2 linked regions of the Homo sapiens genome follow. The protein of the gene in region 2 interacts with the protein of the main gene of each other region in a pairwise test. Each region holds a gene or a part of one and is shown on either strand. Other genes may lie near its edges.

Region 1 (7,025 bases), on a different chromosome or scaffold from region 2:
TTTTTTTTTTTTTTGAGATGGAGTCTCACTGTCACCTAGGCTGGAGTGCAGTGGCATGATCTTGGCTCATTGCAGCCTTTGTCTCCCAGGTTCAAGCAATTCTTCTGCCTCAGCCTCCCCAGTAGATGGGACTACAGATGAGTGTCACCATGCCCAGCTAATTTTTTGTATTTTTAGTAGAGATGGGGTTTCACCATATTGGCCAGGCTGGTCTCGAACTCCTGACCTTGTGATCTGCCCGCCTTGGCCTCCCAAAGTGCTGGGATTACAGGCGTGAGCCACCGTGCCCAGCCCTGAGTTTTATTTTTTAATTTCTCTCTTACTGCAAGGTTGATCATCATGTGTATATTTAAAAACCATTTGTATTTCCCTTTCTCTGTATCTTTGGTGACATACCATATGTGTTACAAACTTGCAGGCAGACAGTGGTAGTACTAACATGCAGAATGTATCCTTGGTGTCATCTTTTTTGGTATCCAGAGCTTTGTGACCCATCTAAGGTTTTTAATTTATACCCATGGCATTTATACCTATGGCAATGCACAGAACTAATTCATACTGGTATGACAAAGATTCATACCAGTTTTTTTTTTTCTTTTTTTAAGTGGAGTTTTGCTCTTATTGCCCAGGCTAGAGTGCAGTGGCGCAATCTCGGCTCACTGCAACCCCCGCTTTCCAGTTTCAAGCAATTCTCCTGCCTCAGCCTCCCAAGTCGCTGGGATTACAGGTGCCCGCCACCATGCCCAGCTAATTTTTTTTTTTTTTTTTGTATTTCTAGTAGAGGTGGAGTTTCACCATGTTGGTCAGGCTGGTCTCAAACTGCTGACCTCGTAATCCACCTGCCTCAGCCTCCCAAAGTGCTGGGATTACAGGCGTGAGCCACCGCACCCGGCCCATACCAGTTTTTTTTGACACCGCTGATCCGAAGGCAGATACCAGTATGAATCTTTTTTTTTTTGAGATGGAGTTTTGCTCTTGTCGCCAAGGGTGGAGTGCAATGGCGTGACCTCGGCTCACCACAACCTCCGCCTCCTGGGTTCAAGCGATTGTCCTGCCTCAGCCTCCTGAGTAGCTGGGATTACAGGCATGTGCCACCACGCCTGGCTAATTTTTTGTGTTTTTAGTAGAGATGGGGTTTTTCCATGTTGGTCAGGCTGGTCTCAAACTCCCGACCTCAGGTGATCTGCCCGCTTCGGCCACCCAAAGTGCTGGGATTACATGCGTGAGCCACCGCGCCTGGCCACCAGTATGAATCTTGAAAGGTTCTCTTTCTTTTTCATCTGTGATAATACTTGGAAATCTTATCACACTTTTCTTAGCTTGCCTAGTTAGATTTTAGACAGGGGTTGGCAAACTTTTTCTGTAATGGGCCAACAATATTTTAGGGTTTGTAGGCCACATACAGTCTCTACATCATATTTGTTATCTTATTTTTTATAACCCTTTAGAAATAAAAAAACCACTGTTAGCTTGAGAGCTGTACAAAAATATACAGGGCCTGTAAGCCCTGTAGTTTGCAAATCCCTGTTCTAGAAGAAGTAATCACAACAAGGGAGTTGAAATTTTAAGAAACTGAATGAACTAATACTTTACTAGGCATTATTAATACTCTAGGTTTTTTTACATATGATTCTTGTCCACGTCTGCTTTTTCATTACTATTTGTTTTCTTTTTTTTTTCAGACAGAGTCTCACTCTGTTGCCCAGGCTGGAGTGCAGTGGCGCTATCTTGGCTCACTGCAACCTCCGCCTCCTGGGTTCAAGCGATTCTCCTTCCTCAGCCTCCTGAGTAGCTGGGATTACAGACACGCACCACTACTGCCCGGCTAATTTTTGTATTTTTAGTAGAGATGGGGTTTCACCATATTGGTTAGGCTGATCTTGAACTCCTGACCTCATAATCTGCCTGCCTTGGTCTCCCAAAGTTTTGGGATTACAAGCATGAGCCACCGCACCTGGCCTGTCCATGTCCACTTTTTCTTAAAGACACCTGAAGAAACTTAACCACTGCTCAGAAGCATTTTTCTCCCTCTTTCAGGCTGTTATCAAAGAACAGCTTCAAGAGACTCAGGGATTGTGTGAATATGCTATCTATGTCCAAGGTAAGACACATACTTCTTGTCTTCTTGCTAGAGAAATACACTTTTCCTAGGTTCTTGAAAAAGATCAGGCAATTGAAGAAACAAGTTCAAGTACAGTCATGCACCACTTAACAATGGAGATATGTTCTAAGAAATGTGTTGTTAGGCAATTTTGTCATTGTGTGAACATTACATGGAGTGTACTTACACAAACATAGATGGATGATATAGTGTACTATACACATGATATAGTCTGTTGCTCCCAGGCTACAAACCTGTATGAGCAGGTGTTATACCGAATACTGTAGGCAGTTGTAAAACAGTGGTAAGTGTATCTAAACATAGAAAAGGTACTGTAAAAATATGGTATAAAAGATAAAAAATAGTATACCTGTATAGAGTACTTACCATGGATGGACTGGAAGTTGCTCTGGGTGAGTTAGTGGTGAGTGAATGTGAAGGTCTAGGACATTATTGTATACTAATGTAGACTTTATGTTGTATACTAATGTAGACTTTATAAACACTGTACACTTAGCCTACACTAAATTTATTTAAAAATATTTTTTCTACAATGATAAATTAACTTTAGCTTACTATAACTTTTTACTTTATAAACTTTAAAACTTTTTGGCTCTTTTGGGGTAATACTTAAAACACACAACAACATTGTACATTTGTACAAAAATAGTTTCTTTAGGTCCTTATTCTATAAGCTTTTTTCTTTTTCTTTCTTTTTTTTTTTTGGTAGAGAGACAGAGTCTCACTTTGTTGCCCAGGCTGGTCTTGAACTCCTGGGCTCAAGCAGTTCTCCTGCCTCAGCCTCTCAAAGTGCTGGGATTATAGGCATGAGCTACGACACCTGGCCCTTTATGCTATTCTTAAAACTTTTTATTTTTTTACTTTTAAACTTTTTTGTTAAAAACTACGATACACACACTACTACAGTGGTGGTACTAACATGTGGAATGTGTCCTTGCTGTCTTTTTTGGCATTCAGAGCTTTGTGACCCATCTAAGGTCTTTGTGACACACACACACACACACACACACACACACACACACGCACACGCACGCACGCACTGGTCTAGGCCTACACTGAGTCAAGATTATAAATATCACTGTCTTCCACCTCCTTATGGAAGGTCTTCAGTGGCAATAACATACATGGAGCTGTCATCTCCTATAACAATAGGAATACCTTCTGGAATACCTCCTGAAGGATCTGCCTGAGGCAGTTATTCTTTTTTTTAGTAAGTGGAAGGAGTACACTCTAAAATAAAGATTAAAATGTATAGCGTAGTAAATACATAAACCAGTAATGTAGTCATTTATTATCAAGTATTAAGTTCTATATATATGTAATTGTATATGCTGTACTTCTATGTGACTGGCAGCACAGTAGGTTTGTTTATACCAGCATCACTACAGATAGGTAAGTAATGCATTGCACTGTTTTGATTGCTATGACGTCACTGGGCAATAGGAATTTTTCCTCTTCATTATAATCTTAAGTGATCATCATCATTTATACAGCTGTCGACCAAAATGTCATTACAGGTGCATGAGTTTAAATGTTCCAGAAAGGTTTTATTCAGTATTAATCTTTTTATGGAATCTGAATATAATTACTGTGTTGGATTTGACTTCAGAAATGACTAGTAATGTTAAAAAATTGCTATGATTACCCATTTTTTAGTTTCTGGCTAGTGTTTTTTGGAATGGATGCTTAGGATTCCTGCCTAATGCAGTGATTTCAGGGCCAAAAGATGCTTTTGGAAGGATTGCTTGTAATCAAGCTAAAAGAGATGAAGAAGAGCTTGAGGATTTCTGTAAGGTGAATCAGGATGAGGGGAAGAAGCCTGGAAATAAACAAGATAAAGCAGAGCATAAATTCAGCTCATTAGAAACCAAAGATAAGGACCACTCACTTACTTTTTTTTTTTTTTTTTTTTTTTGAGACAGAGTCTTGCTCTGTTGCCCAGGCTGGAGTGCAGTGGTGCGATCCCAGCTCACTGCAACCTCTGCCTTCCAGGTTCAAGCGATCCTCCTGCCTCAGCCCCCCTATTAGCTGGGATTACAGGCACATGCCACCATGTCCAGCTAGTTTTTGTATTTTTAGTAGAGACAAGGTTTTGCCATATTGGCCAGGCTGGTCTCGAACTCCTGACCTCAGGTGATCCACCTGCCTTGGCCTACCAAAGTGCTGGGATTACAGGCATGAACCACTGCACCTGGCCCACTGACTTAAATTTTCCTCTTTAGTGGCATAAGTAGCATTCTTAGTTTTTCCAGGAACTTTCTTTTTGACTCTTGGGTGTAAATAAATGGTTTTGTTTACCATTCATTGCATTTGTAGTCTTCAGATTAACATATAATTTTCTGACATAATTGTTAAGATATTGACAAATTTAGGACATCATGGCAAAAAATGCTCTTATTCCCAGTGTCACAAGTATCAGACTTTCAGTGCCTGATAAATTCTTCTGGAAACATAGGCCTAGGAAAAACCTCTGGTTCTAATTGGTTGTTACACTGACAACTGAAGTCTTAAATGTTACTTTATCCTTTGCCAGAATCTCCATGTTGAATTTGAGGTATTGATTCCATTTGCCCCATTTGGGGGTTCGCTCTGAAAACTATCAGTTGGAAGTAAATTATGATAAATGAAGCATCTGATGGGGAAGCCCCAAAATGTTGTTAATGTGAAGAGTTTGTGTGATAATTTGCAAAGGAACTGATTATCTATGTGATGGATCCTGGGAGTAGAGAGAGAAGTAGGTAGGTTTGAGCTACCTTGCTAAAAGACAGTTGAGCTTGTCAGCAGTTTTGGTTGTTGTTTCAGCCTGTCCAAAGCCATATCTGATTGTTTTAAGGATACAGTTGTCCAAAGGATTTACTTGATGTGGTTTCCCAGTTTTCTCTTCTCCAATTTTTCTGACCCCAGGCTCCATTCTTCCCAGAACATGGTTTTACTTTTTTTTGTATTTTCTGTTTCTTGGCAGCATTGATATTTCGCCTAGAAGGAAATATCCAAGAATCCCTAGAACTCTTCCAGACATGTGCAGTTCTTAGTCCTCAGAGTGCTGATAACCTCAAGCAGGTGGCCAGATCTTTGTGAGTATTGGCAACCTGGAGGCCCTAGGGCACTCACAGAGAACAGTGTAAAATGCATTCCTAGGTCCAGCCTGCTGCTGGCAGCTGCATCAGCCTGATACACAAGTGGGGGAATGGTTTAATAGGTACAGTGGGATTCACTCTGAAGAGCATGGATTAAGTTTGAAATTTGAGAAAATGAGATAACTAGTGTTAAGGAACTAAGCATTTTAAACACTGTGCATTCTAGTTTGATGGGGGACCAATATTGTTTATCATGTAAATAGAGACACCTTGTACCCTAAGTCTTCTAAACTTATTGGCAATCCTTGGAATTTTTCTCATCTACTCTTCTAACACTTAGTATTTGTCACACAGTAAGTTTTTAGTAAGGACAGAGAGTTCCTGACTTCTGATGGTTCAACTTACATAATTTTTCAACTTTACAATGATGTAAAATTGTTATGTATTCAGTAGAAACTGTACTTCAAGTATCCATACAGCCATTCCGTTTTTCATTTTCAGTATAGTATTCAGTAAATTACATGAGATATTCAGCATTTTATTATAAAGTTGGCATTGTGTTAGATGGTTTTGCCTAACTGTCAGCAAATGTAGTTAAGAAAGTGGAGATAGGAACTCCATGGAACAGAGTAAGTGTTCTGAGCATGCTTAAGATAGGCTAGGCTATCTATGATGTCTGGTAGAGTAGATGTATTACATGCATTTTTGAATTACAGTGTTTTCAATTTACAATGGGTTTACTGGGATGTAACCCCATCATAAGTTGAGGAGCATCTCTATTTGTTGAGTGAATGTCCTAAAGATTCCTAGATGGAAAGAATCTCAAGTGTTTATAAACTACTAGGTACTCCCTTTTCAGTCCTTTGTTCCATGGAGTTCCTATCTCCCCTTTCTTAGCCACATTGCCATTCATACCTGTGTTGTTTTTGCATAGAGCTTGGTTTTCCCTGTTTCTCTCTAAACTCAGGATCCAATATCAAGGAAAGAGACTTAGTCTTGGAAGGAAAGGATGTGTCCCTAATGGGTGATGATAAATGATGGTAGTTACTGCTTAACATGGTATATCATTAGGCTTATTTCTTTTTTGGTCTGCATTTATAGTACATTGTAGAAGAAAAATTCCACAAGACTCTCACTAAAATTGGTATAGAATGAGACCAAGGCCTTGGAACAGCTGCCAGTGCAATCCCTACTAAGAGAGCTTCTGCTGTTAGTGTATAGCAGCTTCACTGACCAAACCAGCACAACCACCTCATAGAGAAAAGGCTTCTAGAATTCTCTGCTGGATGAAATATGATTAAAATGTGGGACTAGTAGGGTTAGTCTTCTAAGAATTTTGAGGTAATAATTATGGAAAATATATCTTTTACAGATTTCTTTTGGGAAAACATAAAGCTGCCATTGAAGTATATAATGAAGCAGCTAAACTCAACCAGAAAGATTGGGTAAGTAGAGAACTTTCAGTTCTTTCTTATTAGTAAACTTGCTAATGGTTCCATTTATCATCTGGCTGTCTTATTTCTGAATTCTTACATTCCAAAAATGTCTTGATTTTAACCTCATACTTAATTCATGATTTGTATAAGTATAGGATCAAAAACCATGTTTCCTCATAACTTTGCAGGCATTGCTGCATGATTTTCTAGCAGTTTGCTGACGAGCAGTCTCTTACCAGTCTGATTCTTGTTGATGACCCCTAGAAGCTTTGGGTATTTTTTTCGTCATTGGAATTCCACAGTATCAGCAATAGGCATCTAGTTGTGTTTCATGTCTTTTTCCCGTCCCCATCTGTGTGACATTCAATTGACTCTTTCATTCTGAAGACC
Region 2 (7,364 bases):
GTGTAATTTCCTGTTTCTGTTTCTTTAAAGGAAACAATAATTTAAAGCCACCTGCAAAGGCATGAAGGCATAATCCTGGGCAAAAGTGGATTTGTTTCAACTTATTTTCTCAATCTTCTATGGGATCATCTCACTCTTAGCTAATTCTACGCAATGCTTGCCTTTATTGCATCTTTCCAAAGAATTGGATGTTGGTTTCCTAAGGACAGCTCTCTTTTGCACTCATCTGTTTACAGATATATATATTTAATCAAAAATATTTAACAACTGCAATTGCCATGAGGACATTTGGGAGCAAACAAAATTTTATTTATTTATTTAGAGACAGGGTCTCACTATGGGAGCAAACAAAGTCTTCTTTATTTATTTAGAGACAGCATCTAGCTATGTTGTCCAGGCTGGTCTCAAACTCCGGAGCTCAAGTGAGCCTCCTGCCTCCACCTCCGAAAGTGCTGGGATTACAAGCCTGAATCACTGCTCCTGGCCAGAATCTTTTTTTTTTTTTTCAGTTAATTTAGAAAGTTTATTTTGCCAAGGTTGAGGATGCCAACCCGTGACACAGCCTCAGGAGGACCTGAGGACATGTGCCCAAGGCAGTCAGAGACAGTTTGGTTTTATACATTTTAGGGGACATGAGACATCAATCAACGTATGTAAGATGGACATTGGTTTGGTCTGGAAAGGCGGGACAACTCGAAGTGGGGAGGGGGCTTCCAAGTGGTAGGTATATAAGACACAAATGGTTGCATTATTTTGAATTTCTGATTAGCCTCTCTGAAGGGGGCAATCAGAAATGCATTTATCTCAGTGAGCAGAGGGGTGATTTTGAATAGAACGGGAGGCAGGTTTGCCCTGAGCAATTCCCCAGCTTGACTTTTCCCTTTAGCTGAGTGATTTTGGGGCCCCAAGATATTTTCCTTTCACATTTCCTCCCTTTTCTTTTTAAAAATATTTTAGACAAAGCATTTTAGAAGAAAATGAGTCTCTAGTCTCAGGTTTCATCTGATTTCTCTTGGCTAGGATGGTTTATTACTATAGGGGTAAGTCCGGAGTTATTAGGAAAGCTCATTTTTAGAAGGTTGTAAAGTCTCATGTCCTGTGAAGAGAAAATAGGGGGAGGAAGGGAGAACACAACAAACAAAAGAACAATCCTGGAAAATCAAGATACAGGCCAGAGTATTCCGAAGTTCACACATCAGCAGATAGGTATGAAAGTGGCTTACGTCTGTAAATATGTAATTATTTTTTTCTGAGGTTTAAGTTGTCTAGCTCCAGTTTGCAGGGCTTTATAAAAGCACAACTTAGTTTTCAGTGATTCCAAATTAGGGAAAATGGGGGGAAAAGAAGGAAAAAATTTAAAATATTATTTTGGAGACTTGTAGCCAAGAAAAATTAGAATTCAGTCCAAACTATAGAAAATAATAAAAATTGAAAAACATTAGGCAAGACTAGAATGCAACAACAGGTGTACTATAGTTTTTGAAGCATAATCTTTCTCCAGTTTCCCATTTTTACTAAAGATGAATCATGGTAAGGGAGGAGACCACCCCTCATATTGTCTTATGCCTAATTTCTGCCTCCAAAGAAAGAAGATGTAAAAACTAAAAGGCAGAAATGAAATCCACAAGCAGGTAGCCTGGTGCCACACCCTGGGCCTGGTAGTTAAAGATCGACTCCTGACCTAATAGGTTATTTGCATAAAAAAGGCACTGTGAAGATCCCTGTCCTATTCTGTTCTGTTCTAATTACTGGTGTATGCAACCCCCAGTCATGTACCCCCTGCTTGCTCAATCCATCACGACCCTCTCACATGGACCCCCTTAGAGTTGTGAGCCCTTAAAAGGGACAAGAATCGCTCACTCGGGGAGCTCAGCTCTTGAGACAGGGGTCTTGCCCATGCTCCCGGCCGAATAAACCCCTTCCTTCTTTAACTCGGTGTCTGAGGGGTTTTTGTCTGCAGCTCTTCCTGCTACAATGGTATGACTGGTTTGCTTTATCATACTTGGCCTAATTTTTTGCATACAGTGCAGCAAGAATCTTCAACTAGTAAATGAAGTGAGTATTGCAAAGACAGCACCCCACCCTCATGGTGACATTTAGTCTTAGGCCAAAGTCAACATCTTATACAGTAGGAGTGGAGAGTGTCAACTCATGAATAATCTGGTTAAGAGGTTAAGGGTTTGTAAGAAAGATAGTTGGCATTTACAAAATATTTCATCCAACAAAAACAGGAAACACATTCTTCTCAAACTCACACAGAACATTCACCAAGACATATTATGTTCTGGGCTAGAAAACACACTTTAACAAATTTCAACAGAGATATGTTATGCAAAGCATGCCCTTTACTACAATGGAATTAAAAAAGAAACCCACAAAAGAAAGATAGCTGGAAAATTCCAAAATATATGGAGATTAAAGAACACACCTCTAAATAACACATGGGGCAAGGAAGAAGTCTCAAGAGAAATTTTAAAATATTTTGGGCCAGGCTCAGTGGCTTACGCCTATAATCCTAGCACTTTGGGAGGCTGAGGCAGATGGATCGCTTGAGCCCAGGAGTTCGAGACCAGACTGGGCCACATGCAGAAACCCCATCTCTACAAAAAATACAAAAATTAGCCAGGCATGGTGGCATGTACCTGTAGTCCCAGCTACTTGGGAGGCTGAGGTGGGAGGATCACCTGAGCCCAGGAGGTCAAGGCTGCAGTGAGCTAAGATTGTGCCACTGCACCCCAGCCTGGGCAACAGAGTGAGACCCTGTCTCAACAAAATAAATAAATATATTTTGAATTAAATTAAAATGAAAAAACAGCCTATCAAAAAGTGTGGGATGTAGTGAAAGTAGTGTTTAGAGGGAAAGTTATAGCATTGAATGCATATATTAGGAGAAGAAAGATCTAACTCAGAGAGGGATGAACAGGTGAGGCATAGGGGATTTTAAGGTAGTGAAACTCTTGCAGGGCAGGGGAGCCCCAAAACTGGGACACCGTCCGGGAAGGCTCTTGGCTTCGTCCAGGAAGGAATTCAAGGGTGAGCTAGAGGAGGAAGAAAAAGGTTTATTGAGGCAGCAGGGTTACAGTTCTGTGACTGTCCCTGCAGAGCAGGGCCACCCCATAGGCAGTGCCTGGAGAGCAGCAGCTCAGGGCACTTCTATAGTCACATTCATACCCACTTTTAAATACGTGCAAATTAAGGGCAGGTTATTCAGAAATTTCTAGAAGAAGGGTGGTAACTGGGTCATTGCCAGGGAATGAGTAAACTGTTCATGGTGCTGGTGCTCATGCCAGCCAGTCTTCAATCTGGCCCTGAGTCAAGCCCCACCTCCTATCTCAAAACTATTCTGCATGGTGCTGTAATGGTGGATACATGACATGTTATGTTTGGCAAAATCCATAGAACTGTAGGACACAAGAGTGAACCTTAATGTAAACCTTAATGTAAATGGACTTTTGTTAATTATGATGTATTAATATCAATTCATCAATTGTAACAAATGTATCACAGTACTGTTAATAATAGAGGAACTTATTGGCAGGAGAGAGAGCTTATGGAACTCTCTGCACATTCAGCTCAATATTTCTGTAAGCCTAAAACTGCTGTGAGAAATAAAATCCAACCTGGGCAACATAGCAAGACCTTGTCTCTACAAAAAATAAAAAATGAGCTGGGTGCAGTAACGCATGCCTGTAGTCCCAGGTATTCAGGAGGCTGGGGCAGGAGGATCCCTTGAACCCAGGAAGTTGAGGTTGCACGAGTCATGATCATGCCCCTGCACTCCAGCCTGGATAACAAAGCAAGATCCTGTCTCCAAAAAATAATAAAATAAAATAAAAATCTACTAATTGAAAGGGAAAAAAGCATAGTATAATACCATTCTTAACAAAAAGAAAAGAGACCTGTGTTTGTGTGTGTGTTAACATTTGAAAAAAATCTGGAAAGCTCTATATCAAAACGTTTATAGAGGCAATTTTGTAGTGTTAGAATCATAGATGATCTTTCCACTTCCTGGTTTTTCTGACTTTTTTTCTTTTTGCAGTGGGCATGTATTGCTGGAAAATACCACAGACAACTGTGAAAGGATTTCATCAACAACAAAAAAAAGATAAAGAAGGAAACACAAAATCTGTTAAATAAGATTTATGTTGGCTGGAGGTTAAAATGCATTTCCAGAGCAGAGTTCAGAGAAAGGCTGGGCTGCTTGTTGCTGGCTAAAGGACAAAGGGTAAGTTTCAGGAAGCAGAAGAGTGAGCAGATGAAATTCAGCACTGGGATCAGGGGAGTGTCTGATTTGCAAAAGGAAAGTGCAAAGACAGCTCCTCCCTTCTGAGGAAACGAAACCAACAGCAGTCCAAGCTCAGTCAGCAGAAGAGATAAAAGCAAACAGGTCTGGGAGGCAGTTCTGTTGCCACTCTCTCTCCTGTCAATGATGGATCTCAGAAATACCCCAGCCAAATCTCTGGACAAGTTCATTGAAGACTATCTCTTGCCAGACACGTGTTTCCGCATGCAAATCAACCATGCCATTGACATCATCTGTGGGTTCCTGAAGGAAAGGTGCTTCCGAGGTAGCTCCTACCCTGTGTGTGTGTCCAAGGTGGTAAAGGTGAGTCCAGGCCTGCCTGGCCAGGGGAGGGGTGGCTGAATGTGCAAGAGTTGAGATTGAGAATGAGAGAGAGAGAGAGAGAGAAGCAAAAACCTAGAACCCAGGGTGCAAATGTGAGTACAGAGAGCTGAGATCTTCTGGGATGGTGGTTTCTTATTTATCCACACAGCATGTTAAAATAGATTCTGGGGTGAAATCCTACATCCCTATTATTAACAAGTGACCCTCCCCCCTACTTCCCGCTGAAGTTTATGAACCACTGTCCTGGGCGATGCCCATTTCAGAAATAGGGAACTGAATCCCAGCTCTGGTAAACAGTTTGCTAATTCGTGGCCAGGCTAGGGGCTCACCATTTCTGCAGTGAAGAATCATATGTTTTGAAAGCAAATAGCACCTGCTGGCTGCAAGACCTTGAGCAAGTCACTTAACTACTCTGTGTTCCAATTTCCTCAGCCATAATCCCCAATACTGTTGCAGTCTTGCCAGTGCACCTTAATGTAGCAGCTTCTCACTGAATTAGTACCCAAGGTTCTTTGTCCTGCATCCAAGAAAATTAAGGAACATGGACACAAACGTGAGCTTGGAGCAAAAGTTCAGTAAGCAAAAGAAGAAAGCTGTCTCCACTGTGGAGAGGGAAGTCTGAGTGGATTGCCAGATTGCAGCTGAATGCAAAAAACTTTTATAAGAAACCACTCTCCTCCCTGTAACTGTTTGAGAAACTTTTTATCAGTAAAGCTGTGCAACTTCCCTTACCTTATGCAGCTGTGGGTATATCTCTAGGCAAGCATAAAGCGCTGCTTCTCTTGTATGTATAACTGTGGATTTGTTTTAGGTAAGTCCCACTCCCTGCGCCAGTTTCAGGCAGGCCGCTCCTCCAGGGCCCAGCCTTGACCATTTACCTAACTGATTTTTCCTCTACTTTCCCTCAATACCTCATAGGGCCGTGTAGATTAAGTAAAATAGTAAGTGTGAACCACCCAGCATAAGCTAGTCCTGGGCATCGTAAAGGACAATGGGAAAAGAACACAGATCCTGGAAGAAGGCCCCCAGGTTTGAATTGTATTTGCCACCTACTAGCTGGGTGATGGGGCTGATATATTATCTCACTGAGCATCCATTTTCCCATCTGTAAAATGGGAACTAATGATAATGGCATCCAAATCATAGCATCATTGTGAGCATTATAGGAGTTTAAGACATGCAATGCCTTCAGAACAGTGGCTAGTGCTCCATAATGTTAGTGATTGCTCCTGTCATTTTATTTAGGGAGGTTTGCCTCACTAAGCATCAATTATTATTTTTGTCGTCTTTTTCAGGGTGGCTCCTCAGGCAAGGGCACCACCCTCAGAGGCCGATCTGACGCTGACCTGGTTGTCTTCCTCAGTCCTCTCACCACTTTTCAGGATCAGTTAAATCGCCGGGGAGAGTTCATCCAGGAAATTAGGAGACAGCTGGAAGCCTGTCAAAGAGAGAGAGCATTTTCCGTGAAGTTTGAGGTCCAGGCTCCACGCTGGGGCAACCCCCGTGCGCTCAGCTTCGTACTGAGTTCGCTCCAGCTCGGGGAGGGGGTGGAGTTCGATGTGCTGCCTGCCTTTGATGCCCTGGGTGAGAGCTCCCAGCTTCTTTTTCTCCCTCTTCCCATTTCTGAGCAGAAATCTCCCACAGTTTGAGAGCTTTTTGCCCCAACAGGGCATCTCTCTAAAGCAGGGTGGGAGGAGATCTTAGGATCTGTCCCGGGGCAAGAATGAATACGGTCATGATCTATCACAGGAGAGACATTAAACAGCAAATTGGCATAATGTGGGGACAAAGACATTTCTTACAGAACATCTGCAAGGCTTACTGGTTCTGTTTAAGGCAAAATGTGTGAATTTTATCTTTCTAAAATCAGGCAGCAAAGATGTGGCTTAAAGTTCATGTTACTCTCATCTTTGTCCCAACATGAGATCTCATCAAACGTATGCAGCACGTTGGGAGATAGATATTTATAATTTGCAGGAACATTTGGACAGGAAGTGTAACCTCTCAGAGGCTCCCTTGCCACATCAGGAGAATTGGTAAAACCACACTACCTGTATCATATCATTATTTTAAGTGATAAATGATCATCTACATTCAGCTCTGATGAGTAATAGGTGTTCAAAAATAGGAACTTCCAGCCAAGTGTGGTGGCTCATGCTTGTAATTCCAACACTTTTGGAGGCTGAGGCAGGAGGGTCGCTTGAGCCCAGGAGTTCAAGACCAGCCTGGGCAGCAAAGTGAAACCTCATCTCTACTAAAAATTTTAAAACATTAGCCAAGTGTGGTGGTACATGCCTGTGGTCGCAGTTATTCAGGACGCTGAGACTGAACGATCACATGAGGCCAGCCAAGGATTCGAGGTGTCAGTGAGCCACGAATGTACCACTGCACTCCATCCTAGGCACAGAGCAAGAGCAAGACCCTGTCTCAATCAATCAGTCAATCAGTCAAAACTATGAATTTCCCAGCTGTATATGAAGGCACCTCAAAACACCACAGTGAACTCACAGAGGGACACGGAATAGTTTAGATTTTAATTTTTTGAGGGAAATGCGATGACATCTGTCACACACCGCACAAACGGCTACTATTAAACTGAACTTACTGATTAGTGGCTACTAATTAATAGTTGGTCATTAAGCAGTAATTAGTGATTAATTATCAAGTAATTAGGACTTAATTAAAGGAACTGTCACAGTTTCCTTTAGTCCTAGGGCAGCCATGAAAAAAAAAATGC

What was found.
Region 1: the proteins of OAS1 (region 2) and BBS4 interact in binary tests that used the Homo sapiens proteins (3 or more experiments, as listed by UniProt).

The regions. Positions count from the first base shown.
Region 1 is NC_000015.10:72,710,207-72,717,231, forward strand, and holds part of BBS4 (BBSome complex member BBS4), read left to right. Parts: intron 1-2,037; coding exon 2,038-2,101; intron 2,102-5,084; coding exon 5,085-5,196; intron 5,197-6,571; coding exon 6,572-6,644; intron 6,645-7,025.
Region 2 is NC_000012.12:112,902,614-112,909,977, forward strand, and holds the start of OAS1 (2'-5'-oligoadenylate synthase 1), read left to right. Parts: upstream 1-4,348; 5' UTR 4,349-4,426; coding exon 4,427-4,606; intron 4,607-5,922; coding exon 5,923-6,211; intron 6,212-7,364.